Homo sapiens: one gene and its partners. The protein of the gene in region 4 interacts with the protein of the main gene of each other region in a pairwise test. Each region holds a gene or a part of one and is shown on either strand. Other genes may lie near its edges.

Region 1 (7,028 bases), on a different chromosome or scaffold from region 4:
GCTTCCTCGGACCCGGTGGAAAGGCTCCAAAGCAGCAGGAAGCGGGAGGCTATGGAGCCCTGGGCTGCCGGTCTATCCACCCATCACAGTACCCACCGCATGCCTTCAGTACCAGCCAGGGTCAGCACCGACATCTGATGCCCTTTCCTGCTCCCCACAGACACCCAGGGAGACGTGGCCTGAGCTTTGCCCATGCCCGCAACAGTCACCATGAGATGCTTCCAGGAAGAACAGCAACGGACGCTTCCTGATCCTTCCCTTGCAGGCCAAACACCACGGCCGCCCTGGACCTTCCTGGGACTAATCAGAGGGCCCCGCACAGCCAGTACCAGCTGGGAGGGAAACCCCCTCAGCACTTCCTCCTCCTGGCCTGAGCCTCCTTCTCCCTTCATCACAGGGTGGTCTGCAGGCCTCTATCGTCCCGAGCCCCGGAGTCCTCAAGGGTAGGATGGAGCAATTACCTCATGGGAGAACGCACCATGAGGACAAATACGGAGCTGGCTTCCAAGGACCCTGTGAGCATCTGCTCCCAAACAAGCGTATGCTGCCTGTCCCATCCACAGCACTTCTGAGACGGCCATTTGAGATCAATAGAGCAATCTCTCTTCCTCCCTCTCCCCCTGCTTCCATCTCGTCCTGCTTTACTTGTTACAGTTTTTTTTTGTTTTTGTTTTTGCTATAACTTCTGTACACTGAGCATCTGTACACCAACTATATACTGTTCGCCACAGCATCCTCAGGGGTGGCATTCTCTAAGTCACTTGCTTCACCACTTTTATGTTGTTTTTTTTTTTCACATACACATGAAAACTAATATGCAACTCTCAAAACAATTTCACCGGGGTATTTTCTAGTTCCTTGCTCTAAGCCTGGCTGTGCACCCCCACCCCAGCTTGTTTCAGGAGAAGCTCATTTCCAGAGGACACAGCCCCCCTCTTGTTTCTCCCCAGGTGCAGCCCCTCGACCTGTTCCTCCCCCAGGCACGAGCTCTGTCCTCGACCCCCTGGTGACACTAGACCTCTGGCCGAGATCCCCACACTTAATGGGCCATCCTTTCCTCACCAGAAATAATGGAGTCGTTCAGCGCCTCCTCGTCCTGATACAAAAGCAAGTCGTCTTTGAGTTCAGAATTTATGATCAGGTTCTCCTTGTTCTCCTCAGATTCCTTAGCGGCAGTTCGCTTGTTCTCCAATGCCCCGTCAAAGCTCCAAGCCTCCTCCCTCTCCTTGCCCCGCTCCACGCTGGACGTTCTCGACAGACGGACATCCAGCCGCTTCTTTGGAGACCCTTTACTTTCTCTTCCTTGAAAACTAAACCAGAAAGATGGTTCAGGTTATAGGTCACCCCCTTCACCCAGAAACCCAGCACGATTGACTTTGGAGCTTATAATGAATATCACAGAGGCAGCCCCAAAATGCATGTGACCTCTTGGTTTTTATCCTGGACACACCAGAAGGAGCATGAGGATTTGAGTTCAAGGCAAATGGCTGTTTACAACATGCTGTTTTGAAAAGCACAGAACATGCAAGTAATAAAACCTGCCAAAATACATGCAATCAATGTTCAGGGCGAGGACTTCACAAAAACTGAGAAGGACATTTTGTTTGTCTAATATTCCTCCAACCCATACTGTCTCCTATTACCTATTTTACCTCTAATCTTTCACAGTCCATGAGACACATGTGATCCAAAATAAGAGTAAGCTGCAGGCACAGGCTGCCTTACACTCTTGCCCAGTGACAACTATGAAGCCCTCAGTGTCCTGGGACAAAGTGGAACGGCCACTTTTCTCTAAGTCAGTCTCTCCTGCAAAGCTCCCACCCCACCCTGGGTCCTGAGGGGCTCACGCACAGGACTTTGTGGCCAGGTTCCCATAGTGCACATTCACTGTGCACCCCGTCCCAGAATGTGGGAACCAAGATCAGCTATGCAATCTGCAGAGCGAGGTGCAAAATGAAAATGTGACTTCCTTGTTCAGAAAGTGACTGTAGAACGGGACACCCAGCCAAGGCCCTGGGCGTGGCATGAGCTGCACAGCCTGAGGCTGGCCAGGCAGGGATTCTGGCAGCACAGGTCTCCCTCATGGGGCAGGGCCTCACCTGTCCTGGCGGTGCTTCGTGGCCAGCGCCCTGTGCAGCTCCTCAATGACGCGGCTTGGGGGAAGAGGCCGGTGGACCGTGGTGAGATGCGGAGACCCCGTGGGTGTGGAGAGCTGGCCCCGGAGGGAAGGGTCGGCACTCTTCATGCTGGAGGCTTGGAAGAGTGTGGCTTGGCCTGGGGTGTGGGAGGAAGCAGCAAGAACATAGGTCTTCAGGAGCTGGGACCAAGGGTTTTGCTGAGACTGGGGACCATGAGCGGAAAGGACGCTCCCCTGCACCTCCAGGAGGGGCCCCAACTAATGCCAAGATGCTGGACCGGGATCCCTGCTCCCAAAGCTAGAGGCCAGGGTGCATCTCTGTCCAGTTCTGCTCCATCTGTAGGGCAAACCCTGTTAGGGGCCAAGCCTTGCAGACACCAGCACCAGCATCCTCCCTGCAGGGCGCTGGGCTTAGAAAAGCCTCCTTCCTGCTTCTCTGCTATGAATTCAGCTTCCTGAAGCTGCTTCTTGTTCTTGGGAAACCCGGAAGAATCTGTGCAGCCACCCTTCAGCCTGGATGAGCACCATGGTCCGCTCTGCCCTCCCCACAGCATCTGTTCCAGCACCTTGGGCTTGCACTTCCAGCCCCCAGAACAGTAAGGAATAAATTTCTGGGCTCCAACCCTCTCCCTGTATCTCTGCCAGGAGGATCACCCCAGAAGGTGAATTGGATCACTCTCCCATCTTCCTTAGGACATGATTCGAACTCATGGCCCAGTCTCAAGGCCCCTGGGGGTGGCCCCACTCGGCTCCCTAGCTGCATCTCCACCTCACTCTCTTCACTCCAGCATGTGAAGATCTCTCCCGTCTTTGAAGGCACCACACTCCGTCCAACCTGAGTCTTTGCATGGGCTGTTCTTTCTGCCTGAAATGCTTCCCCGCTCCTCTGCTAGAATACCATTTCCTTAGAGAGGCCATGATCAGATCCCTCGTCTCCTGTCCCCTGGGACCTGAGCCTGCCCTGACACTTTTCCTCTTACTTGGAGTGAATCACGCTGCCCAGTCTGTTTCTTGCTCCTGGGCAGGCCTGTGTCCACCTTCCTTCCTACAGTTTCCCCAGGCCTGGCACTTAAAACACGGGCAATAAACACTTGTGTACATGAAATGACTTTGAAGATGATTCTAAACAGGCTTTGCTCATTCAAGTCTAAATGAGTGGGACACCCCCTCCTTCCATCAATGACAGTCTCCTGCATGTGCTCCGGGCCAGCAGGGTGTCAGGTGCCCGGAAGAGCAGAGAGCATGGGCTTTGTCTTCTGCAGATTTGGCCTCTGGTCTTGATCTGCCATTTCCCAGTATGCAAGACTCTGGGCAAGTCACTGAAGCTCTCAAAGGCTTAGCCTACTTGCCTGTAAAATGAGACCATCAGCTCCTTTTCAGGAGCCTAGCAGCTGGCACAGGCCCAGAAGCTCTTAGGTGTTCAGCACAAACTCTCATTCCAAAAGCGTCCTGGCAGGACTGGTGCAAACACCAGATCCCTTTAATCCCACCAGCAAAACAACCAGATCTAAACTACCCCATTCCCTAAAAACCAGAAACAAACTTCCAATACAATCCTGGGATGTGGACAGCATCAATAAAAAGTATTCCTCAAAACCCAAAAGGAAACTGTAAACCTCGTGGAGGACTTTAGTTATTTCGCTTTCTCTACAAGCACCTGCTTGGCCACACAAGGCCAGGCCACAGGGAAACGGGCCAGGCCCTGCCGTCAGCTGGTGGAGACAGACAGAGGCCAGGCAGACAGAAAGAGAGCAGATGATTGTAGAATAGAGAAGGAGACAGAAGGAGAGGGAGAGAAAAGGGCTGGGAGAGAGAGTGGTGGAGGGAGGGGGGCGAGAGGGCACCACGCAGGTGGGCTGAGAGTACTGGGCTGGTCGGGGGGAGGTGGTAGCTGGTTTGGGAGAGGGAGGTCAGGAAAGGCTGCTCTGCAGAGGGAAACTTTGAGCTGAGACCTGAGAAATGACAAGGAGCCAGCCATGCAAGAAGTGGCCAGGCAGGGCAGGGGCTGCAGGGAGACCCATCCCCAGCTTCTGCACACTGCGCTGTCCTCTCCCCACTGGCCTCAGCCTCCCCAGGCTGCTCCTGCTCAGGACAGTGCCCCACTCCTGAGCACACGCAGGTGACACGCAGCATCCCCCAGCCCCTCTGTCTCTAACCATCATTGCCTCTACTTCTCACCCCAGCCCCATGAGGAAGGAATCACTAGCCCTCTTGTACAAATAGGGAAACTGAGGCAGCGTGGTTTGCCTGCTCTCGCTCAGCTTGGTGGAGCTGGGATCCCACCCAGGTCTCTGCCCCACTGTCAATCACAGATGTGACAACCAGCACTGCCCCCACGGCCCCCATAGAGCTTTGCCTGGCTCGCCCCACCCAGCTTGTGCAGGGGACCACTTGTCACCCCCATTTCACAGATGAGGAAGCTGAGGTTCAGAAGCCACCTCAGGGGCAGGCTGCCAGGAAAAGGTGGGGGCTGAGAACAGCACATCGCACCCAGCTCCACTTACACTTGGCAGAGGCTGTGGGACTCCCATCCCGCAGAGTTGAGCGTTACCAACTGGACCAGGTGACAGCAGGGGTAAAGGAGAGGTAAAAGGGAGAGGGGTAAACGCATCTCCAGGGACCAGGCAGGTGAAACCCAGGAATGCAAAGGACCTCCTGCAATTTCTCCATGGGGGCAGGGTGGGGACCACAGCACACAGAGGAGAACCTGCCCACCTTAATGGGCCTGTAGTGACTCAGAGGGTGATCAGAGATGAAGACTTTTCAAGAAAGTCCAGGAATTTGGCCTATGAACCAGGAAGCAAGCCCTCATCAGAGACACCAAATCTGCCGGCACCCTGATCTTGGACTTCCAGCCTCTAGAAGAGTGACGAATAAATTTCTGTGGTTTATAAGTCACTCAGATGAACTAAGACACCTGCAGTCCTGCCTTGGGTGGAGACTCAGTTGGGCCAGGGTCCCTCCTGCAGCAAGGGAAGCCCAGGTAAGGAGACTTTCTTCTTTGCTACCATCTAGTGTTCACATGCTGAAGCACATGAACCTTTTCCCAAAGGAAAAGGAAAAAGAGGAACTGAGAAAATTAAATCAAAGTCACCAAAATGTAGTCTGTGCAGGAAGAAGCCAGGCCAGGACCCATAGCTCGGAACTACCCTCCTCCACCTCCCAGTCTCAATTCAGTCCCTATGGAAACGCATAAGTGTCAGAGTATCCCCTGATGTCCTTGCAACTGAGGGCAGGGCGGAAGCCAGAAGTGTCCGCAGACTGGGGACAGAACGCCAGAATTTAGGGCGTGTGGAGTCAGAATGAAGACCTGTGCCATCTGAGGCTCGACCTTCCCAAGCTTGGGAGAGGCAGGAAACTCTCTGGGTTACCAAGTTATTGAGGGCCAGGAACAAATTATACATTCGCCAGAATAAAATGAGGTGGATGGTGGCTAATTGAATGGACTTTAAATGGTTTTAGGTTTCAATGGAGGAAAAAGGGAGCTATCACAAAGACAATAACAAAATGCAAAGTAGCACAGTTTTGCCTCAAACTTTGTACTGTAATTTATGTGGCCATGTTGCATAAAGACTGAATATTTGGATTCATCTACAGAGATGTAGAAAGATGCAGAAAGCAGACAGACAGGGTTCAGAGCACGCATGCATTCATTCACTCATTCATTCATCCATCCAACCATCATCTGCACTTGCTGAGTGCCTGCTGTATGCCCTGTACTATGCCTGCACTTGGATTTGACAGTGAACACAGACGTGTGGCCGTCTCTCAGGGACTACTGTCTGGGGGGCAGGTGGTTAGAGAGAGGCAAACCATCCAACAGACAAGGCGTGTATGGCTCCTTGGGCAGCCCAAAGCAACAGAACAACTCTCACAGTTTTGGAGACCAGAAGTCTGAAATCAAGATGCTGGCAGCGTTGGTTCCTTCTGAGGCTGTGAGGGAGATGCCGTCCCAGGCCTCTCCCCCGGAAAATTCTTGGCGTTCTGTGGATGCATCAGTCCCATCCCTGTGTGTCCTGTCCTGCCTGTCACATGGACACTGTCATTGGATTCAGGGCCTAACCGAATCCAGCATGAGCTCAGCTTGATCTTTAACTTAATGGCAGTTGAGAGACCCTTATTCCAAACAAGGTCATGTTCTGAGGTTCCAGGTGGATGGGAATTTTGGGGTGACACCATTCAACCCACTAAACAAGGTGGGGCAATGTGGTAAATGCTGGAAGATGGGGCGCATGGTGCTATGAGGTCAAGGGTCAGGGCTGGCTCCCCTGGAGGAGAAACAGCTTGAGCTGTGGTCCCAAGCATGCAAAGGTACTGACCAGGCAAAGCAGGAAGGGAGAATGTTCTGTCAGGGAGAACAGCTGGGGCCAAGTCTCAGGGTGGTGGGGTGGCGGGGGCGCCCCCTCACTCATCCCTCCACCCACCCAGCAGCACATTCTCCCACAAACCAATACTACTTGGGGAACCACAGGGCACCACAGCCCCACATCTAACCCATCCAGGACATCTGCAGTCCCAGCTAAAGAGGCCCCCTGTGGGGTGCATCTCACCTCCTCCGTTTCTGTGGTATCTGGCTGAGAATCATCAGTTAGACTGGAATACTTAATTCGTGTTAGGTGTACAAGGAAAATGCCCCACTGAAAGCATTTTCCACCCAAGAGTCCCCTCCAGATTGAACATTCACCCCATAAGGGGCAGTAAGGTCCCCAGAAAAGAGCCAAGGGCTGGGACCCAGCCCTCCCGAGCTCATGCCCGGGCTCTCCTTGTCTCAGCAGCTGACACCTCTTCCAAAAGGTGGCAGTTCCCTCTTTCATGAAAACTGGGAAGAAGCACAATGAGGATTAGGTGAGATCGCAGAGGGGAGGGCACCAGCCCCTGGCCACACGTGTGG
Region 2 (7,028 bases), on a different chromosome or scaffold from region 4:
AAATCCCAGGTGTGACTTGAATACCTGTCCTTAACCAGGTTCCACTCCAGCCTGGGCAACAGAGTGAGACTCTGTTTCAAAAAATAATAATAATAAAAATAAAATAATGGCACCCCTACCCCTTCCATGACTTAGAGCCTGTGAGACCAAGGACCAGAGTCTGGGCCTGGGGCACCTGGCTTCATTCACTCTGCTGTGACCTTGCAAGAGGCTTGGCTGCACTGACTAGACTTCCAACCAAAAGGGCCACACAGCTTTTGGCATCCCCCTGAGCTGAGCACAGTGCTGGACAGACGGACACAACAAACTGAGCAAGACTGAAATCCACACACTCACTGAGCATCCTGAGAGCTAGGCCTGGCAACACAGGCCCAGGGCTGGGAAGACATGGCCACTGCCCACGAAGGTTGCAAATGGTCTAGCTGGACCTAACTAGCACTCCAAGCCTTTCTGAATGAATGGACGAGTCCAGAGAGGGAAAATATGGCCAGGGGCACACAGCATAAACCGGAGTACAGGTAAAAGTAGAACACAGGTTAGAATCAGTTTTCTGCTACACAGTAGTTCAGATGAGGGTTCCTCATCCCTAGCCCCAAGCACAGAAGCACTCAGACAAATGGAAGGGGGCTCTGCTGTGTCCTCCCCACCCAGTGTGGCCAACAAGGCCCCTGGCAGCCCTGCAGGACTGGAGACTACACCGTTGAACAAAGGGGGTCCTGCTACCAGCTGCACAGCTTCTCTCCCAGACTCAGGGGGCAAGCATCCCCGCTCATAGCAGGGGCCCAGCTAAGCAGCTGCAGCCAGATTACAGTGGGGCACGGGAGGTGACAACAGCCAGAAGTACACAGCCCTGCCTAAATATTTCAGCAGGAAACCCAAATATTTAGATGGAGGAGAGGAAAAAGAATGCACATTTCAAAGCCAATCAAAGATGAGAGGGGAGGTGGGTGGTGTCTGCCTCGAGTGAGGGCCCAGCTCTGATCCCAGACCCTGGGTAACCATCATCCCAGGAGAATACCCATGAGACCATCTGGACGCAGGAATTCTCCAGAAAATTTTTAACCAAGGCCTGGGACAAGCCAGGACTGAGCAGAGCCCTGCTAGAAGAGAGAAAGAAGGAAACCGTCCCTATTTTTAGGTGTTGACCATCAACTGTTTTAGGTGGTTAATTTGCAGGACACAGAAAACAGTGGGTGACTGACTCCAGTAGGAGAAACTTGATGGGTTTTATCATGTTCCCTTGTCCCCATCTCCAGATTAGGAGCTCACTGCATGATGGGTCCTGCAGGGTGGTGTCAGGGACAGAGTACACAGAGGAACTGGGTACAGGAACAGCAGTTAATACGTAGCCAGTCACCTGTTACATGTGCCAAACACACTAACATGTTAACATAGACCCTATGGGCATGACGGACATACCGTACTATTATCCCATTTTGCAGATGAGATGACTAGCTCAATGAAGTCACACAGCTCAGTATCCTGAACTCTTAGCCCCATGCACCCTAAGACTCTGAGGACACCACATATGCCCTGCACTTTCTCGCCTCTATGCTTTGCTCCCTGCTTTGCCCCACCTTCAAGGTAGCCTCACATAGAAGAGAATAGTTCACAGTGTGAGCTCTGGGTTCAAAACCTCATCCTTCCACTTCCTAGCTACATAGCCTCAGACAAGTTATTCAATCTCTATGGTCCATTCTGTTGCTTCTACTGTGAGGTCGAGCTGATCACAGAATTTACTGCAGAGGGTGGCTGCCATGATTCAGTGAGATGATGCACATCAGTGGCTCCCACAGCCTGTGGCCCCCACAGCCTGTGGCCAAGTAAGTGCTTGTAACTATTGGTTGCCCAAGCCTGTCACTCCCAGCCCCCGACTCCACCTCCACTTATGGACAAGACCGAAGCTTCCAAGTCAACAAGAGGGATTCAATCTCAGTCCTCTATCCAACAGTGTAGACCTAGGCAAGTCACCTGGCCTCTGGTTTCCTGTCCAATGGGAATAGCAATACCTAGCCCACAAAACTGGTTCAAGGAGACACAGGTAACATCCCAGCCCAATGTCTGGCACCTGGTAGGCACTCCACAGAATGCTCACAGGGCTACTGCCCATGCCACTCACCCTCCAAGCCTGCCTTCTTCTAAGCGCAGAAGTAAAAATTCATCTCTCGCCCTGGTGCACACCTGGAGTCCCCAGGTGCACTTACCAACATCAATCTGGTAGCAGCTCCTTACTATTCTTCCTCCAGGTTAGGGGCCCCCTGAGGGCAGGGGCTGTGTTTTGTTTGGAGCCAGGTCTTCCACAGGCCAAGGAGTTTGGCTACAGGCCTCAGAAAACAGAAAATGAATCCCCCCAGCCCCTTCAACATTTGCCCATCTCTCCAGCCTCTTCCATCTACAACCCACCACTGAGCACTTTGGACTGTATTTCCTCTCATTTCACCACTGCGGCCCAATTATCTTTCCTCAGCTGCACTGATCTCCAGAGGGTTAAAGACTCTCCAATATCTGAGGTTTCATCAAGCACAGAAAGGATAGCCAGTAGGGAGGGCCCGTTCTGTGTTTCCAACTCCACTGTATCCAGGTCTCTGAGGTTCAGAGATTGGGATAACTGCTCACCAGAAGCCTAGAGGCCTTAGGCAGCTGAACAGAGCTACAACTGGAGCACACCACCCCCACTTCTACATAAAGGGATAGCGAAGATGCAATCTGGGAAGGTCACCAAACGGGAGACGGAATGTCTTTGGCTGGGCCAGGGACCCAGACCTGGACCTAAGGGGCTCGTAGTAGGAAAAGAACTAGAGTGTGAAGGTCAGTGGGTTTTTCTGGGGGCTGTAGGCAATATGAGCTTTCTGGGAAAACCCACACTACATCACATCAGCAGGAGAAAGGAAGGAGGGGGTGTCCTTATCAGAACACCCACAGAGTGAAGGGATCAGCCCACAGAAATGTCGTTATTTTAGAGTAGAATGTTCCACTTCTTTTAAGCTGTAAATGGCTGTGGAGGAAACTTTCTGAAATGTTGTTCCCTCCCCTACTTGAAAATTGCAAAAATTTGATGGAGTTCAAATTCCTTGGCAACCCAGAAGAGCTTAGTCATGTGACTCTCACCTCCCTGGCCTGTGGCTACAGCCTGTTGGGTCCATCCTGCAGAACACCTCCCCAAGGGCTATGGGCAAGAGACAGCCACCATCCCCATCCCTTTTCTAGTTCTTTAGAAGTTTGGTTGATACACACCCAGAAGTAGGAGCACTGCATCACTCAGTAGTTCTATTTTTAATTGAGGAAACTCCATACTATTTTTCACAGTGGTTGTACCACTGTACAAAGCAAAAGAAATACTATATGACTCCACTTAGGAGACATCTAAAGTAGTTAAGTTCACAGAAACAGAAAGGAGAATGGTGGTTCCCAGGGGCTGGGTAGAGAGGGAGAAGAATTGTTGTTGAAGGGGGTATAATTTCAGTTTTGCAAAATGAAAAAGCTCTGGAGATCTGTTTCATAATGGTAAATATACTTAACACTACTGAGCTGGGCTTTTAAACGTGGCTAAAATGGTAAATTATATGTTTCTGTGTTTTTTGCGTTTAAAAAATTCAGTTGACGTTCTCTCTGTTCTAGGAAGACCTTCCTGATTCTTTGTAATACCAATTAGATTCCCACCACACCTGTGCAGGGACCGCTCCATTGCAGCATAGGAATATCTGGGCATAGCAGAAATGGCAGCTAACACTTAGTGAGCATTTACGATGTGCCATACACTATTCTAAGCAAACTATGGTGTGGCTTCAGAGGCCACTCCCACAACCATCAGACATACTGCTTGGTTGGTGATTCCTTCAGCAACACCACCAAGGCCCCGCAGTGGCAGCTGGACAAAGATCCCTACTGAGGGCAGCACATCCTCTCTCTATGTACAGCCATACTTGGGAAGAACTGAACAGGCAAGGGTTCCTCTGCGTTATTCCAGAGGTCCCTGGGGACTCAATGAAATCTCAAAGAGATTCGCTTCCATCTTCTCCACTCCCTACAAGGAATATTGGAAGGAGGCAAACCTATTTCATGTGCTTTCCTATGGTCTCCTACCTCACTTCTCTGTACCACCCCAGTTCTGGCCAACTGGTTCTTGCAGCACCATGCAAATACAGCATCCCAATTTGGACAAAGACTGTCTTGGAGGCTCCACTCAGGGGCCTGGCTCCTCTGCTCCCCAAAACCTTGCACTTCTCTCCCTCCTCCCACCACCACCAACCACACACACAGTTCAGAGGCTGAGCCCAATCTGCCAGCAAACAGCCAAGTTCAAGATGAAAGCCTTTGGCCCGAGGTCAGGGCCAGCCAAGCACAGCATCCAAAACCGGGGGATTTTGTTTCTTCTAAACGCCAGACTATAAATAGGGCAAAACCCCAGGAAAATATTTAAAAGCAACAATCATCACCTCCTTTGCATCCCCCACCCCCACTGGAAACTTTCAACACTTGCTAATTTCTACCCTCAATAATTCTCTATTACTGTGCCATCTGTAATCATCCTAAGGGTTCTAGTCAAACGCTCAAAGCAATGTAATAAACATTTACTTTCACTGTTAAAAAACTCTAACCAGAGCAGTTAACTAAGGCAGACTAAGGCTTTTTTTTTTTTTTGGCTACCCTCAACTTTTGAGTGGAACATAAATAAGAAACAAGCCATTAGGAAGGGACCTCTTCAATTTCCTCTCAAAAAACCAGCTTATCCACTTTCCACTTCTGCAGTCCTAGCCAGTAAGAACTCAAGCTCGGACCCAAGGCTGTGGAGGCCTCCAAGATCCTCCATAACCAAAAGAGCTATTGTGTTCCTTTTACTTACAAAGGCGGTTAAGTGGACCAGTGCATTTCACAATTTCCAACAAGGCCTGAGACAAAGAGGGTGTTTATATTAACCCTCAACTTTCCAAAAAATTCAATGTACCCCATTCTAAGCATTTTGGCCACATGTAATTTTGTCATATATTTCATGGTTTTATTTTTCAAATCTGGGGAGCAGGATTGGTGTTAAAAGAGTGCCAGAACCTCAAAATTGGAACTAGCCTTACTACTTTGGACTGGAGTGTGTATAGACCAGTCCAAAGGGTCCAGAAAATGAAAGGAGGTACATATGGAAAACCTTAGAACACAAGAAAGCACTTTGGAGCTTAGGAAGGAAGGAGGCCAGTGGGATCCAAGAGGCTTCCGGGAACAGGTCAGCTATATGAGCAGTCAAGCAAAACCTGGACTTTGGTCTGGGATGCTAGACAGAGGGCAGGACCTAGGGCAACCCTGCTCCACCCTCAGGAGACAAGGGACTCTCTAGAGCCACAGCAAGAAACCTGCAGTCTGCCTTCCCCAGGCTAGGAGAAAGGGCCACTCTCCATCTTCTGTTAGGAGTCTCTTCTCCCTTCCTTTACCAGTTAGGTTTTTTTTTTTCTTTAATCTTTTTTTTCTTTTTTTGAGACAAGCTCTTGCTCTGTTGCCCAGGCTGGAGTGCAGTGGCGCAATCCAGGCTAACTGCAGCTTTGACCTCCCAGGTTCCCAGCTGTTCTTTCTAATCCAAGACCCCACTCTGGCTTGAGGTCATCTCCTGAGAGCCCTCCCTGACCCCTCAGGCTGGACCAGACCCTCGTTAAGCGACCTCCTGAAAACCTCTTCTGTAGCCCACACCCACTGTCTTGTTCCCAGTGGGTTTATGTATCCTTTTCTCCAGCAGCTCGGAGTGTAGCCTAATTCTTTGTATCCTGAGAGTCTTGCCCAGTGTCTGGCACATGGTGGATACTTAATAAATGCTTGCTAATTTCCATGTACTTTGAAACATGAAACTTAGATGTGAAAACTGACTCCGCTCTATGTGATCCCAGACAAGTTACACTGGCTTTTCCCCTAATTTTCCTCATTTATGAGGTGGCCTGCAAGATTAAATTAAAATAAGAATGTATATAAAGTGCTTATTCAAAGTGGTCTGGTGCACGGTGGGCTCTCAAATCCTTCCTGTTTCTGATCACTGCCCACCAGAGGCAGAAGGTTGAGAAGGGCTGTCCTTCCTCCCCTTCAATCACACCCCCACTGTTTTTGGTGGGACAGGGGTTGGGGACTTCCAAAATGAGAAGCGCAGAGGGGTGGACTGATGTATTACTTCAGTAACAGAGGTGCTGGGTCAGCCAGGCAACAACACAGGAGACGCCTGTATGCCATTACCTGTGCTAGGGGAAATAGAAAATAGAATTTTCCAGCAGATCAGGGTCCAGCTGAACCAATTTCCTAAGCTCAGTTACAGAGCAACAATCTTCACAGGCCCAAGAGGGAGGTGCAAGCTCCTGGGGCAGACTGCCTGGTCATTGCCCCTCCCCGTCCCGCCCCATAGGCTGTGCCTCCTGTGGTGTCCCTGTGGCCATTCTATCTTCTCTGGGCTTCAGCTTGCTTACTTGAATACATACTGTAAAGAGTACCTGAAATAAGGCAGGTAGGTAAAGCTGCCTTCCTCAATAAATGCTAAGGTCAGGAGACCTGTTCACTTTTTATAGACATCTTGCCTAATGTTTCTACTCTATTGGAGCCTCACCAAACACTCATTTTGCAGATGAGGAAAGGAAGGCAAAGTTAAGTTACATGGCTTGATGGGTAAATGGCCGAGCCAGATGGCAAAACCAGCCTGTGCCCTCTCTCATAAAATGAGGATAATAGCACCCACAATGCCCAACACAGAGTAGGTGTGCTGTAAATGTTAACTTCCCTTGTGTGAGTCTGCAATTTAGGAAGAGGTTGGGAGAATGAGTCACCAAAGATCTTGCTTGAGAGCAAGGGTTCAAGATGGTTCTGAAGACAGGAAAGAGGACGATCACGTGGTCCCAGGCTGGCGGGTCACTGAGCACTTGAAAGTCAGCCTGCACCTCACTTCAACCACAGCGGAGGGAAGGAAGTATCTGACAATTCGGGGGGTATTTCTAAAGAAAGTTGACTTAACTCCCTTTCTCACACATTTGAAAGAGCACACACAACTTTCAGGGTAAGAGAAACCCCAA
Region 3 (5,465 bases), on a different chromosome or scaffold from region 4:
GTCGGAACATGGCCATATAATTCATTTTCAGATTGTCTGTGGCTGCTTTGTTGCTACAATGGCGGAATTAAATAGTTGCAATAGAGACCACATTGCTTGCAAAACTGAACATGTTTACTATCTGGCCCTTTGCTAATACTGGTTGACCATCTCTGACTTAGAATGTCACATTGAGAAGCTTCAAATTATTCCTGTGGGTTGGGGATCTAGGGAACTATTTTCACTATGGTCAGCTCTGAGTTTTAGAAAATTCCCCAAATGCTAATATGTGATTTTCCCTGTAGCAGGACATAAAGAAAGCAGAAATCCGAGTAGGGGACAGGTGAGATGAAAAGAGAAGATTCAGGAGTGGAGAGAGATGATGTTGGAGGGTAAGTCAGGGAAGACATATATGGTGGGGTTTTGAGCAGCAAGTGAGATGGACATGTTGCTGATATAGTTCCAGAGATCAAATATCACTAATGACTTCTGTTCAAGGGGGAAGGAACCAGTATGCACCGAACTCTCACTGCACCAGGACTGGTGTTTTCCATGTGTACCTTTATTTAATGCTCACAGCATCCCTATGAGATAGGACTTCTTATACCTACTTCACAGAGAAGAAAATGGAGACATGGAAGGTTAAGGAGCTTGTGTGACATCATACACTTAGCAAATGAAAGAGCACAGATTTGATTCCACGACTCTCTGCTTGCAAAGTCTAAGATGATGTTAATATAGCAGGAAACTCACATAATGTCTATAAACCCATTGCCTGTGGGGTGTTAAATCTCCAAGAATCAGCCTTTGGTCCCCGACCTGTAGAGGATGTGGATCTTCTAGCTGAGCCTGATGCTCTTGTGGGTTCCTCACTGGGTCCTGACCTCTGAGTATTCGGTGGAGGTGTCCTTGGAAGGATTCATCCCATGAAAGTTGAGGGAAGCATAATGCAGCTCCTCATCCATCTCCACAGTAGGGGCGGCACCTGAACAGCTTGAGGTTTCAGTGGGGCCATGTAACTTGGACTTCTTCTGGTGTTTCTTATGGAGAGGAAAGAAGGGGGTTAGAGCAGGGCAGTGAGGAGGGGGACCAGGAGAAGGCAAAGAGGGTCAATGAAGTAAATTTGACTCTGACAGAACATTTATTCACTCTTTCATTCTTTCATCAAATGTTAATTAATTAAGGCTCTACTTATTCATTATCTAACACATGTAGCACGTATTGATTGATTCGCAATTCTCTTGAATACTCACAGAGACTAATGTGGAAAAATTCTGGGCAGCTACACTGACATCATCTTTGGCATCTATTATTTTAATCCATTTTACAGACCAGGAAACTAGGTCTCAGAGAGCTTAGGTAATTTCCAAAGTCACACATCTGTTGACCCTGAACTCGGTCCCAGGTCTCTGGGACCTCCTATGTGCTGGGCACTGGATCCTCAGGAGGGAGCAGAGCAGAGCAGGGGCCCTGTGATTTCCAGTACTGCAGGGGATGAAGACAGAAACAGACTGGTAATTGCAAATTGTGACAGTGTGCAGATGAACAGGAGAGAGTAGAATGATGGAGGTCTAATAAAACCCAGGCTTTTCCTTGTGGAGCTCATGGTGTGGTAGGGGAAGCTATGGGAATGCAGTTAGTTCAAGTGGTGCAAAGCCCTACACAAACAGGGAACATGGTATCATAAGAGACACAGGAGCAGATGCTGGAGAAATGGCAAGTCTACAGGGTACAACCATTTGCTGGTGCAGGCCCATTTCTTGGTTCTAGATTTGGGGCAGTGTTTCTCAAAAGAGTCCTTCAACTCACAGTTTCTGCCTCTTCTCCTCCCATTCTCTCTTGAACTCTCTCTAGTCAAGAGATCTTCCTCCAGCAGAAAAATCAGATCTGCTTTGCTGTCATACCACTTAGCTACATTCAAATAGCCATTTCTCAGATTCCATCTTACCAGACTTACCAGCATTTGAAACAAATGACCAACCTCTCCTCCATGAAGCCCCATCTTCCCTTGGCCACCAACACTACAGCCTGCAATTTCCTGGTCATTGGCTCCTATTCATTCTCAGCTTTCTCACCATTTACACCTCATCTCCCTAACATTAAATGCTGGAGGGTTCCAGGGCTGTGTCTGTGGACCCCTTCTCTTCTTTGTAGATTCATCGATTATTGGATGTTGATAGGGAAGCTCCCAACCTCTGTGTCTCCCACGTGGAGCCCTCTTCTGAGCTCCAGACACTTGCCTGCTACTTGTCATCTCCACATGGATGTCTCAGAGGCACCTCAAACTTACGGTAACCAAAATAATGTTTGATATACACTTGAAAATAGACTTCTCCTTCAAGGATGGCAATTTTAATCATTGGCAATTTGATTTTTTAAGTTTGAATTCTGAGTTAACCACATGAACATCATCATTGGCATCTATAGACATCTATGACATCTATGGGGTCTTCTTGGACATCCATGACATCTATGATATCTGTGGACCCACCTATGACATCTGAGACACTTATCGAGCAGAGCCCGTGAGCTATCTTTGCTCATGCCTTGCATGCACTCCATCACTCCACTTGCAAATACTGTTGACTCCACCTTCAAGATGTATCCGGAACCCAATTTCTCCACATCAGATTCATTATTCTTACTTGGGACTAAGTCTGAGTCAGTCATCTCTTGGCTTGATTATCTGTGTATCTTCTATTCTGGTATCTTCTCTTCTATACTACATACTAGAGTTTCTCACAGAGCAGCCAGAGTGACTCCCACTAAAATGAGTGTCAGTTCATGTCACTCTTCTGCTCTAAACGCATCAATAACTATGATGGACTTAGGATCCTGCAATATTTGCAGCTCCTATGTCTCTTCAACCTCATTTCCTACCTACCATTGTTCAGTCCACACTCCACCCCCAACACGTAACTCTGCCTTATCCACACTGTCCTACTTTGTTTCTCTAAAACATCAGATGTGTTCCGGCCTCAGAGCCATGGTACTTGCTGCTTCCTTGATGATTCTCTACTGCTCATACTGTACTCACTTTCTTTCTGCAGGTGTTTGCCCAAAGGCCATTCTTTGGCCCCCAGGACTGTCCAATCCGTTCTCCCATTTCATTTCCTGCCATAGCACTTATTTCATGCCTATTTCATGTATATTTGCACTGCTTATTTGTTCATTATTTTCATCCCTTTCCCCAATAAATGTTAAGCCCCCGATAGGAGGAATATTTTATATTTGTAAACTGTGTGTTTATAAAAATACAGAATGGCACAAGGACCTAGAGCAATTGGCAAATGGGATTATATAGATATTTCAGAATGAATGGGTGCTGGTTGACCCTGTGTTCAAAAACTTTACTGTGGTGTTCACTTTAGTCAGAGTTAAATAAATTAAAAAAAAAATCAGAGCTTGAAGGATGCACTGGAGTTGGGCAGGTAGCTATTAGGCATATGAGGAGGAGGGGACAGCCCAGCAATGATTCTGAGATGAGAAAGCTTGCCCTGCTTGAGGTGATTGAGTGGCTAATGTTGGGGGAGCATAGCACTGAAGGGGACTCTGGTTTTCCTGCTCCAAATGCCAGACCAAGTTGTTGGAATGCCAATCTTTCAGGAGTGTAGAGAAGCAGTGCATTTCAAACTTGGGAATGATGGGACAATGACCTTTTAGGGAGGTGATGCTAATGTTCTGGAGAGGAGAAATGGGAGGTGAGGCTGCAGCAGAATAAGGAGTAAGAGGGGCTCTCGGCTCAGGAGTGGTTGTGTTAAGCCGTGTTCAGAGGAAGCTCAGACATGCATCGTAGCATACTGGCACAGGAAGAGATGGAGGACTGGGACAGGAGGGGGCCATGTCTCTGGTTGGGTAATGGGGACAAGAGTGCCATCAGCGAGATGGAGAACCCATCAGGAGAAGTATGTTTAGGGGTGTGTCAACCAAGTGTTTCTGATGTTTTGACATCTGGGGCATTACTGACCCTTGAGAGACTGCCTTTCCCAAGGATAGTAGATTTCTAGAGCTAATAAAGGACTTGCATACAAGTGCACCTTTCATGTGCAAACCAGTCAATCTAAAGCCCACACTACCAGCTGGATCCTTTATTGAGCTCTTACACTCCAGACCACAATCCTCCTTAATAAACCCAGGGCCATGTACCAGACAACTAGAGACAACTCCTATACCCCAGAGTCTGCTGAAATTGTTCTAAGTAGCCAATCCTAAACCTGCCTAGCTTGCTTACCCTGTCTTGCCCATTCTTTTCCATGAAAGCCACAGTGAAGGCTCTTGTCCCATTTTCTCCTTGCTCCCTCTGCTTCCTGACTGACCCTGGTGCTTCTCCATATGGCCTTGCATGGTGTGGTGTGCCCTCTCGGGAACGGTGAATAAGAAACTATTTTTTTTTTCTTTTTGGGACAGAGTCTCTCTCTGTCACCCAGGCTGGAGTGCAGTGGTGCTATGTCGGCTCACTACAAGCTCTGCCTCCCGGGTTCATACCATTCTCCTGCCTCAGCCTCCCAAGTAGCTGGGACTACAGGCGCCAGCCACCACATCTGGCTAATTTTTTGTATTTTTAGTAGAGACGGGGTTTCACCATGTTAGCCAGGATAGTCTCAATCTCCTGACCTCGTGATCCGCCCGCCTTGGCCTCCAAAGGTGCTGGGATTGCAGGTGTGAAACACTGTGCCCGGCCAAGAAACTATCTTTTCAATGGCCATCATCTCCTGATCTGTTGGCCTCAACGTACCTGAAAAATATTAAAACCTACACTGTTAAACAGGAGGAAAGACAATAAGCTCAGTTCTGGAAATGCTGAATGGGGCATGACGGTGGGCCACATTGGGAGGAGGTGTCTGCAGGACAGACTGGATGCCAGGATGCCCCATCACTCACCGGGGAGGCTGACCCTGTGGTAGGGTGGGTGTCATTCCTGCCCACTGCTGTCCTGGCTGCTTTCCTCCTGTGGGTCTTCACTCTGATGGGAGACACCAGGGTCTTTGAGCCTGGTTTTCTCAGGCTGTGGGGCCATTGTTATGAGCCTGGAATGAGGGACTTTGGCAGGTAAAGGGTGGGATTAATCCAGGAGCCCTCAAACAAGACTTAGTCACAAGGTCTCCCTCTACCTCCCACTCCTTGGACATCTGAGATCAGGGCCCTGGAATAGACCCACGCCTATCCCAGTGGCCACAGGCTGGATTCTGTACATCATCACACCCCCTGCCCTTTCTCCAGCCCTCACAGCCCCTCCAGGACCCTTCTACACCAGGTCCATCCTCTTCACCTCTGGCCCATGCCTGACCCAGAGAAAATGCTCACATGAAGAAGATGAGGCAGAGACAAAGAGCGAGCAGGGCTGTAACACCAGCTCCTCCAATGGCCCCATGAACCACTCCTGCTCTGGTCTCTTGTTTCCCTGCAGACAAAAAAGATTTGGGGTGAATTCTAATCTAGATAAACAGGTATGTGTATCCTCCTCTCCAGCATGTAGAGAGGGGTGA
Region 4 (7,903 bases):
TATTCGGGAGGTTGAAATAGAAGGATCACTTGACCCCAGGAGACTGAGGCTGCAGTGAGCTGCACTCCAGCCTGGGTGAAAGTAAGACCTTGTCTCAAAAAACAAAACAAAAAAAACAAAACTGCAGGTAAAGAGCTGCAGCTCAAGCTCCAAGAGAAACCTTGGCACATTAGTGATGTCTCTGGCTATATCAGCATGTGGTTGAAACAGGTTAGTTACTTCTGGAATCTTCACAGAGGAAAAAAAAAAAGAAAGAAACAGGTTAGCAACTATTACTTGAGACTGAATTAATGCTCTCTGTAAGGGCTGAGTGTTCCCTCCAAGCTCACCATCTATTCTGAATCAATCAAGAAAAAAAATGGAGGGAAATAAAACCACAAATGAAAAACATGATTTTTTTTTTCTTTTTTTGAGATGGAGTCTCACTCTGTCACCCAGGCTGGAGTGCAGCAGCACCATCTCACCTCACTGCAGCCTCCACCTCCCAGGTTTAAGCGATTCTCCTACCTTAGCCTCCCAAGTAGCTGAGATCACAGGTGCCACCAAGCCTGGCTTATTTTTGTATTTTTAGTAGAGACGAGGTTTCGCCGTGTTGGCCAGACTGGTCTCGAACTCCTGAACTCAGGTGATCTGCCCGCCTGTGCCTCCAAAAGTGCTGGGATTGCAGGCATGAGTCACTGCGCCCAGCCAAAAAACTTGATTTTCTACCCATTATGAACCATGCTTTAGCATGAAACTTACTATGAAGCAAATACCAGAAGTCATAGCTAAGGCTAGAATTTTGAAGTAATGCTATGCAGACAAGAGAAATCAAGGGATCTGTCAAATCTGCTACTAATTGATTGTATGACCAGGATCTTTCTGAACCTGTTACTTGTACCTCTGTTAAAAAAAAAAAATCACTACTATCCAAGTCACCCTCCACTAGCTTTTTTTTTTTTTTTTTTGGAGTCTCGCTCTGTCGCCCAGGCTGGAGTGCAGTGGTGCAATCATGGCTCACTGCAATCTCCGCCTCCCAGGTTCAAGTGATTCTCCTGCCTCAGCCTCCTGAGTAGCTGGGATTACAGGCGCCCACCACCAGGCCCAGCTAATTTTTGTATTTTTAGTAGAGTCGGGGTTTCACCATGTTGGTCAGGCTGGTCTGGAACTCTTGATCTCGTGATCCGCCCGCCTCAGCCTCCCAAAGTGCTGGGATTACAGGCGTGAGCCACCACACCTGGCCGGGAAAGTACTTTTTTTTTTTTTTTTGAGATGGAATCTCGCTGGGTCCCCCAGGCTGGACTGCAGTGGCGCAATCTAGGCTCACTGCAAGTGCCACCTCCCGGGTTCACGCCATTCTCCTGCCTCAGCCTCACGAGCAGCTGGGACTACAGGCGCCCACCATCACGCCTGGCTAATTTTTTGTATTTTTAGTAGAGATGGGGTTTCGCCGTGTTAGCCAGGACGGTCTCGATCTCCTGACGTCGTGATCCGCCCGTCTCGGCCTCTCAAAGTGCTGGGATTACAGGCGTGAGCCACCGCGCCCGACCGGAAAGCACTTTTAAAAGCATAAAATGCCATACACCATACAAATGCAAGAAGTTAGTAAATTCTGAGTTTGTTAAATTATTGTTCACTATTAAGATTTATTAAAAATAATGTTCTTTGGGGGAAACTTTTAAATTTTAAAAGTTTTTAGAATTAAAAGTCAGGATGCAGAGATTTCTCTTTTAGGCCCCAAATTAATCGAAAAAATATTTCACTAGTATATTTGCTTCAGAGAAATAGAAGTGAACTTTCACAAGTCATTAATCTATTGCTCAAAATAAAATGATCACACACAAACCGAAAATCAAAGCTTCAAACATACACACACCGAAAATCAAAGCTTCAAACCAATCTTTAGCGGCTGCATATCACTAGTTGCCTGGGGTTGGGAGAGAATGACTGCAAAGGGAAAGGAAGCTTTTTAGAATGATGGAAATGGTTTATGTCTTAACATGGATGAATACATTTTTCAAAACTCATCAAAATGTACATTTTAGATAGGCACAATTTACGTATGTACATTACACCTCAATAAAGTTTTAAATATTTAGAAGTCTATCCTGTTTCCTTAAAAAAAAAATTAGTTGCACCATGGTCTCAAAAATAATTTTTAAAATGAGATGTAATGCAACAGACTTGAAGATTAAATAAAACAGTCTTGAATATTTAAGAAAAATGACAAAACATGAGTCAAAAACAAAAAAAAAGGGTTGATTTATGAGTTTCTGGCCTCAAGGTCAACTCAGATTAGGGGGAAAAAAAAACAGTGGAGGCATAATCAAGATGGGGAAGCGTGTGGAGAGAAATCTCAGCTTCTACTCTAGAAGACGAAAACCAAAACCGGTATTACTTCAGAAGGCACACTGGAAAAGCACAGATGTGGGTGCACTTCAGACCTAGGTTCAACGGATCTAAGCTGCTAACTCTATGGCCCTGAGAGTCCTCAACCTGTGAGCCTCAGTTTCCCTTTCTGTAAAATAAAGATAATGATGGCTTAGAGTTTAGCTGAGCACACAGCAAATGCTCGACACATAAGTAATACATGATATTACATAAGGCACCAGAACTCGGAGCTGACTGGAAATGCATGCAAACTAAAGCCCTCCCCCAATCCCACCCCAGTTTCCCTCTGAGGGTCGTGATCCCTTTCTTACGCCTTATCGCCCCCAGCCAAGCCTCCCTTCCTTCCCACATACACTCCACACAGCCTTTTCACCCCTCGCCCCAGCAGCTTCAGAGGCCTCCCACCTCCCAGGCCCCACCTCGTTGAGGAAGCGGGTGACATCGTAGACTCGCCCATGGATCACAAGCCACAGTTCCTTCAAGGAGTTGCGCTTTGCCACCTCCTCCAACCGGTAATAGGTGACTGAGGTCTCGACTTCCTGCCCTTTCCCATCGCTGCCGCTAGCTTCCGCAGTCGCCATTGAACCGGACATACTGCCTCTCCACCGCTAACTGAGATTCCGCGACTACTTTCCTTGAGAGCCCGCGCTCAGCCTTCCTCGGCTTCCGTAACCAGGGCCCATAAGGCCTTGAGACGGTTCCTAGCAACAGCCAATCACACTTCCGAATAGTTCCTGGTTCGTTTTCTTTTCACCAATGAAGGGAGTGGCTCAGTTCGAAATCCCGCCCACTCCTCGCCCGATCCTCCAGATGAAAGTCTGGTTCGAGGTCCAACTAACCAATTAGGGTCGTTCAGCCCCCTCCAACCTCGCCAATCAGATACCGCGATTTTTGGACTGGCGCCCAAAAGAGGCGTGCTGACAGGTGTCACTTCAGGAGAGGTACCACTTCTCTCAGCCTGTGGGCCTTTAGGGTCTCCAGTGTTCTGCTTCCCTTCCCATCGCTGTGGCTTTCTCCTGAGTCTCAGAAAGTTCCTATCCCCTACACTACCGGCGCAGCCTGTATCCCAACCCTGATTTTACATCTTTGCTGCCTCCAGGTCGTGATCTGGCCAATCCCGTCTCTCCTCAATTTCCCCATCAGTAAAATGGGCTTGATAAAGCACTCTCTTACAGAGGGGTTTGCCTTTTTTTTTTTTTTTTTTTTTTTTGAGACAAGTTCTCGCTCTGTCTCCTAGGCCAGAGTGCAGTGGCACGATCTCGGCTTACTGCAAACTCCGCCTCCCAGGTTCAAGCGATTCTCCTACCTCAGCCTCTCGACTAGCTGGAACTACAGGCATGCGCCACCACGCCCGGCTAATTTTTGTATTTTTAGTAGAGAGTAGGTTTCACCATGTTGGCCAGGCTGGTCTCGAACTCCTGACCTCAGGTGATCCGCCTGCGTAGGCCTCCCAAAGTGCTGGGATTACAGGCGTGAGCCACCGCGCCTGGCCCGGTTTGCCTATTTTAATGAGAGTGCCTGTAAAGCGCTTGGCGCATAGTAATCGCTAAACATGGCAGTCGATTAGAAAGGCAATTGCTGTCCCGGACAGCAATTGGGGGTAGAATGTGGAGTATCCTATGTTTCTACCATCATTCAGAATCCGATTTTCAAACGAATTCTGTGATGATCAGGATCAATCGGCACTATTTTAGTCTCTACGTGATCTAAAATAGAATTGAACTCAACTGCTCTCCGCTAGAGGTCCCAGCACTTTGGAATTCCAAGTTTGGTTAAGGTACAGTGTTGTGCGCCACTTTTTAACTGCCATTACAACTGACAGATTGCTCTTCCTATGATGTCGTCGTTTTCATCCTGTCACTCTCGCAGTCTACCATTCAGGGCTCTCCACAATCCATTCGCAACCTCTTTCACTAACGTATAATATTTTCCACCATTCCCTTTATAAGCCTGTTGCACCCGCCCCGACTCTGAAACCTGCTGGTTTAAAACCACATCCGTGGTCATCCCAGGTCCACCAAGTTAATTTTAGATCACTTAGAGACTAAAATAGTGCAGATTGATCCTGATCATCACAGAATTCATTTGAAAATCGGATTCTGAATGGTGGTAGAAACATGGGATACTCCACATTCTACCCTCAATTGCTGTCCCAAGGACTCCTCTTCCTTTCAATGCCTACCGGCTTTTCAAGTTCCTCTTCAGTTTCTTCTATTTTCAAACTTCTCCTACCGTTTTGAGCTCCAGTGCTTCCATCCCTTTGTAGTACCTAAGAAAGCATATTACTATTTTGGGAAGCCTGCTACGTCTGTAAATTTTAACTTTACGTATTTTACCTCCCTAGTTAGACTGACACTATGAGAGCAATCTCACAAGATTCTTAGGATCCTCCACAAACTCTAGATTCAAATATTTACATTTATTCCAGACATTTACTATTTACTGTTACAAGTCTTATGATAGGCATTGGGAGTAGAGAGATAACATAAGAAACAAAATCTCTGAAAGAAATAAAAACATTTACAGGCTGAATGTGGTGGCTCAAGCCCCGTAATTCCAGCACTTTGGGAGGCCGAGGTGGACAGATCACTTGAGCCCAGGAGTTCAAGACCAGGCTGGGCAACATAGTGAGGCTCTTGTCTCTTCAAAAAATACAAAAATTATCTACGCATGGTGGCACACAACTGTAATCCCAGATATTTGAGAGGCTGAGATCTGGGGATGGCTTGAGCCTGGGAAGTCGAGGCTGCAGTGATGTATGATCGCACCACTGTGCTCCAGCCTGGATGACAGAGCGAAACCCTGTTTCAAAAAAATAAAAATAAATAAATAAAAATAAAAAATAAAAAAATTACAAATTCTAGCACTTAAGTGATATATACCTGTAACATTATATTTGAAAATGTTTTTAGAATTTCAAATAAGTAAGTTACAAGAATAATACAATGAATGACCATATACTTTTAGCTTAGGTTTACCAACTGTTAATATTTTTCAATATTTGATTTTTTCCATATTATTTTGATCATTGTTGTTAATAATGCTGAACTATTTCAGATATCACCACCCTTTACAGCCAAATAATTCTACATGTATCTTCTAAAAATAAGAACATATTGTCACGTAACTGCAGTATGAATTTCAAATTCAGAGAATTTAACATTCACACAAAATTATTATCTAACATACTCTCCATATTATTTTCCATTATTGCATTCATGTCCTTTGTGAAATTTTAGTGTGCCTGTATGACCCAGGATCCAGTTCAGGATCATGTATTGCACTTAGCTAAGTCTCTTGAGTCCCCTTTAATCTAGAACATTTCCTTAACTTTGCTTTTGCTTTCATGACATTGACATTTTTAAATAGTATAGCCTCAAATTGAATTTTACACTGAAAAATTATTGTGACCTAAATGTTTTGGTTATAAATTTATATTTACAATTGATAGCACATGTTAGCCAGAAAGTCTGGCTTGGAATACCTGTCCCTGCCACTCACAAACTTGGTGACCTTGGGCAGGTTTCTTAGCCTCTTTTTTTCCATGTGGATACCCACTTGTTCCTGCACCATTTGATGAAAACACAATTCCCCCTTGAATTGTTTTCCTGTATCTGTCGAAAATTGATTGATCATATAAGTGTGGTTCTCCTTCTGAAATTTCTACTCTGTTCCGATGACTTATTTGTTTATCCTTGTGCCAATTCCACAGTCTTGATTATTGTAAGGCACTAAATCAGGTAATATAAGTCTTATAGCTTTGCTCTTAACTTTTGAAAATTATTTTTGCTATTCTAGATCCTTTGTATTTCCACATACATTTTTTTTTTTCACTCTCATCACCCAGACTGGATGGAGTGCAATGGCACAATCTCAGCTCACTGCAACCTACACCTCCCGGGTTCAGAGTAGCTGGGATTACAGGCCCCCACCACCACACTTGGCTAATTTTCATATTTTTAGTAGAGAGGGGGTTTCACCATGTTGGCCAGGCTGGTCTCAAACTCCGGACCTCAGGTGATCCGCCCACCTCGGCCTCCCAAAGTGCTGGGATTACAGGCATGAGCCACCATGCCCGGCCCCACACACAATTTAAAATCAGCTTGTTGACCAAGTGATCAAATTAAAACATCTCCATAATAAATCATGTTGACAGCATGTACCCCCGGTGTGATGTGATGAAAAGGGCATGTTGCCACTGTGGCATTCTTCCACAAAATCCATAACCATAGTCCAAGCATGGGAAAAACATCAGGTAAACCCAAACTGAGGGACATTCTACATAATGCCTGACCAGTACTCCTCAAAACTGACAAGCTCATAAAAAAAAAAAAAAAAAAAGGAAAGATTGAGAAATTGTCACAGACTCAAGTAAACTAAGGAGACATGACAATTAAACGCAGTATAGTATCCTGGACTGGATCCTAGAACAGAAAAAGGGCACTGGGGAAGAATTAGTGAAATCCAAATAAAACAGTAAGGTGCCAGTGTTGATTTCTTACTTTTGACAAACATATTATGGTAATGTAAAATGCTATCTTTATGGAAAATTGAGTGAGTATACAGAAACTCATTGTATTATTTTTGCAACTTTTCTGTAAATCTAAAATTATTACAAAAAAAGTTATTATTTTTTGCTGGGCACTGTGGCTCATTCCTGTAATCCCAGCACTTTGGAGGCTGAGGCACAAGGATTGCTTGAGCTCAGGAGTTCAAGACCAACCTCGACAACATAGCAAGACCTCATCTCTTTTTTTTTGAGACGAGTCTCACTCTGTCACCCAGGCTGGAGTGCAGTGGCATGATCTAGGCTCAGTACAACCTCCGCCTCCCGGGTTCAAGCAATTCTCCTGACTCAGCCTCCTGAGTAGCTGGGATTACAGGTGCCCACGACCATGCCCAGCTAATTTCTTTGTATTTTTAGTAGAGACAGGGTTTCACCATGTTGGCCAGGCTGGTCTTGGACTCCTGACCTCAGGAGATCCGCCTACCTCGGCCTTCCAAAATGCTGAGATTACAAGCGTGAGCCACTGTGCCTGGCCTGCAAGACCTCATCTCTTTAAAAAAATGTAAAAATTAGCTGGGCATGGTGGTGGGCACCTATAGTCTCAGCTGCCTGGGAGGCTGAGGCAGGAGGATTGCTTGAACCCAGGAGTTGGAGGCTACAGTGAGCTATGATTGTGCCACTGCACTGCAGCCCGGGTGGCAGAGTGAGACCCTGTTTCTAGAAGAAAAAAAAAAAAATCAGCTTCTTAATTTTACAAAAGTGCTTATAGATGAATTTACAGAAAAAAGACACCTTAAAAACCTTACATTTCATGAACCATTTACTTCAGTTTAATTTGTAGTTTTCAATGTAGACATCTTTAGCATCTTTTATTAAATTTATTTCTAAATGTTTCGTTTTTTAATGCCCCTATAAATGAAATTATTTCATTTTCCAATTGTTTGCTGCCAGTCTAGATAAATATAATTGATTTTGTACATTGACTTACTATCTTATACCTTGCCAAATTCACTTATAGTTCCTGTA

The links.
Region 1: the proteins of CYB5B (region 4) and PHACTR3 interact in binary tests that used the Homo sapiens proteins (3 or more experiments, as listed by UniProt).
Region 2: the proteins of CYB5B (region 4) and KCNK5 interact in binary tests that used the Homo sapiens proteins (3 or more experiments, as listed by UniProt).
Region 3: the proteins of CYB5B (region 4) and CD33 interact in binary tests that used the Homo sapiens proteins (3 or more experiments, as listed by UniProt).

Annotation. Positions count from the first base shown.
Region 1 is NC_000020.11:59,768,525-59,775,552, reverse strand, and holds part of PHACTR3 (phosphatase and actin regulator 3), read right to left. Parts: intron 2,275-7,028; coding exon 2,100-2,274; intron 1,311-2,099; coding exon 1,063-1,310; intron 1-1,062.
Region 2 is NC_000006.12:39,219,460-39,226,487, forward strand, and holds part of KCNK5 (potassium channel subfamily K member 5), read right to left. Parts: intron 1-7,028. UniProt on the Homo sapiens protein: K(+) channel that conducts voltage-dependent outward rectifying currents upon membrane depolarization. Voltage sensing is coupled to K(+) electrochemical gradient in an 'ion flux gating' mode where outward but not inward ion flow opens the gate.
Region 3 is NC_000019.10:51,235,072-51,240,536, reverse strand, and holds the end of CD33 (myeloid cell surface antigen CD33 isoform 1 precursor), read right to left. Parts: intron 5,381-5,465; coding exon 5,284-5,380; intron 5,020-5,283; coding exon of another isoform or gene 4,943-5,019; coding exon 4,861-4,942; intron 4,715-4,860; coding exon of another isoform or gene 4,706-4,714; exon of another isoform or gene 4,571-4,705; intron 1,020-4,570; coding exon 849-1,019; 3' UTR 521-848; downstream 1-520. UniProt on the Homo sapiens protein: Sialic-acid-binding immunoglobulin-like lectin (Siglec) that plays a role in mediating cell-cell interactions and in maintaining immune cells in a resting state.
Region 4 is NC_000016.10:69,419,744-69,427,646, reverse strand, and holds the start of CYB5B (cytochrome b5 type B), read right to left. Parts: upstream 3,029-7,903; 5' UTR 2,964-3,028; coding exon 2,790-2,963; intron 1-2,789. UniProt on the Homo sapiens protein: Cytochrome b5 is a membrane-bound hemoprotein functioning as an electron carrier for several membrane-bound oxygenases.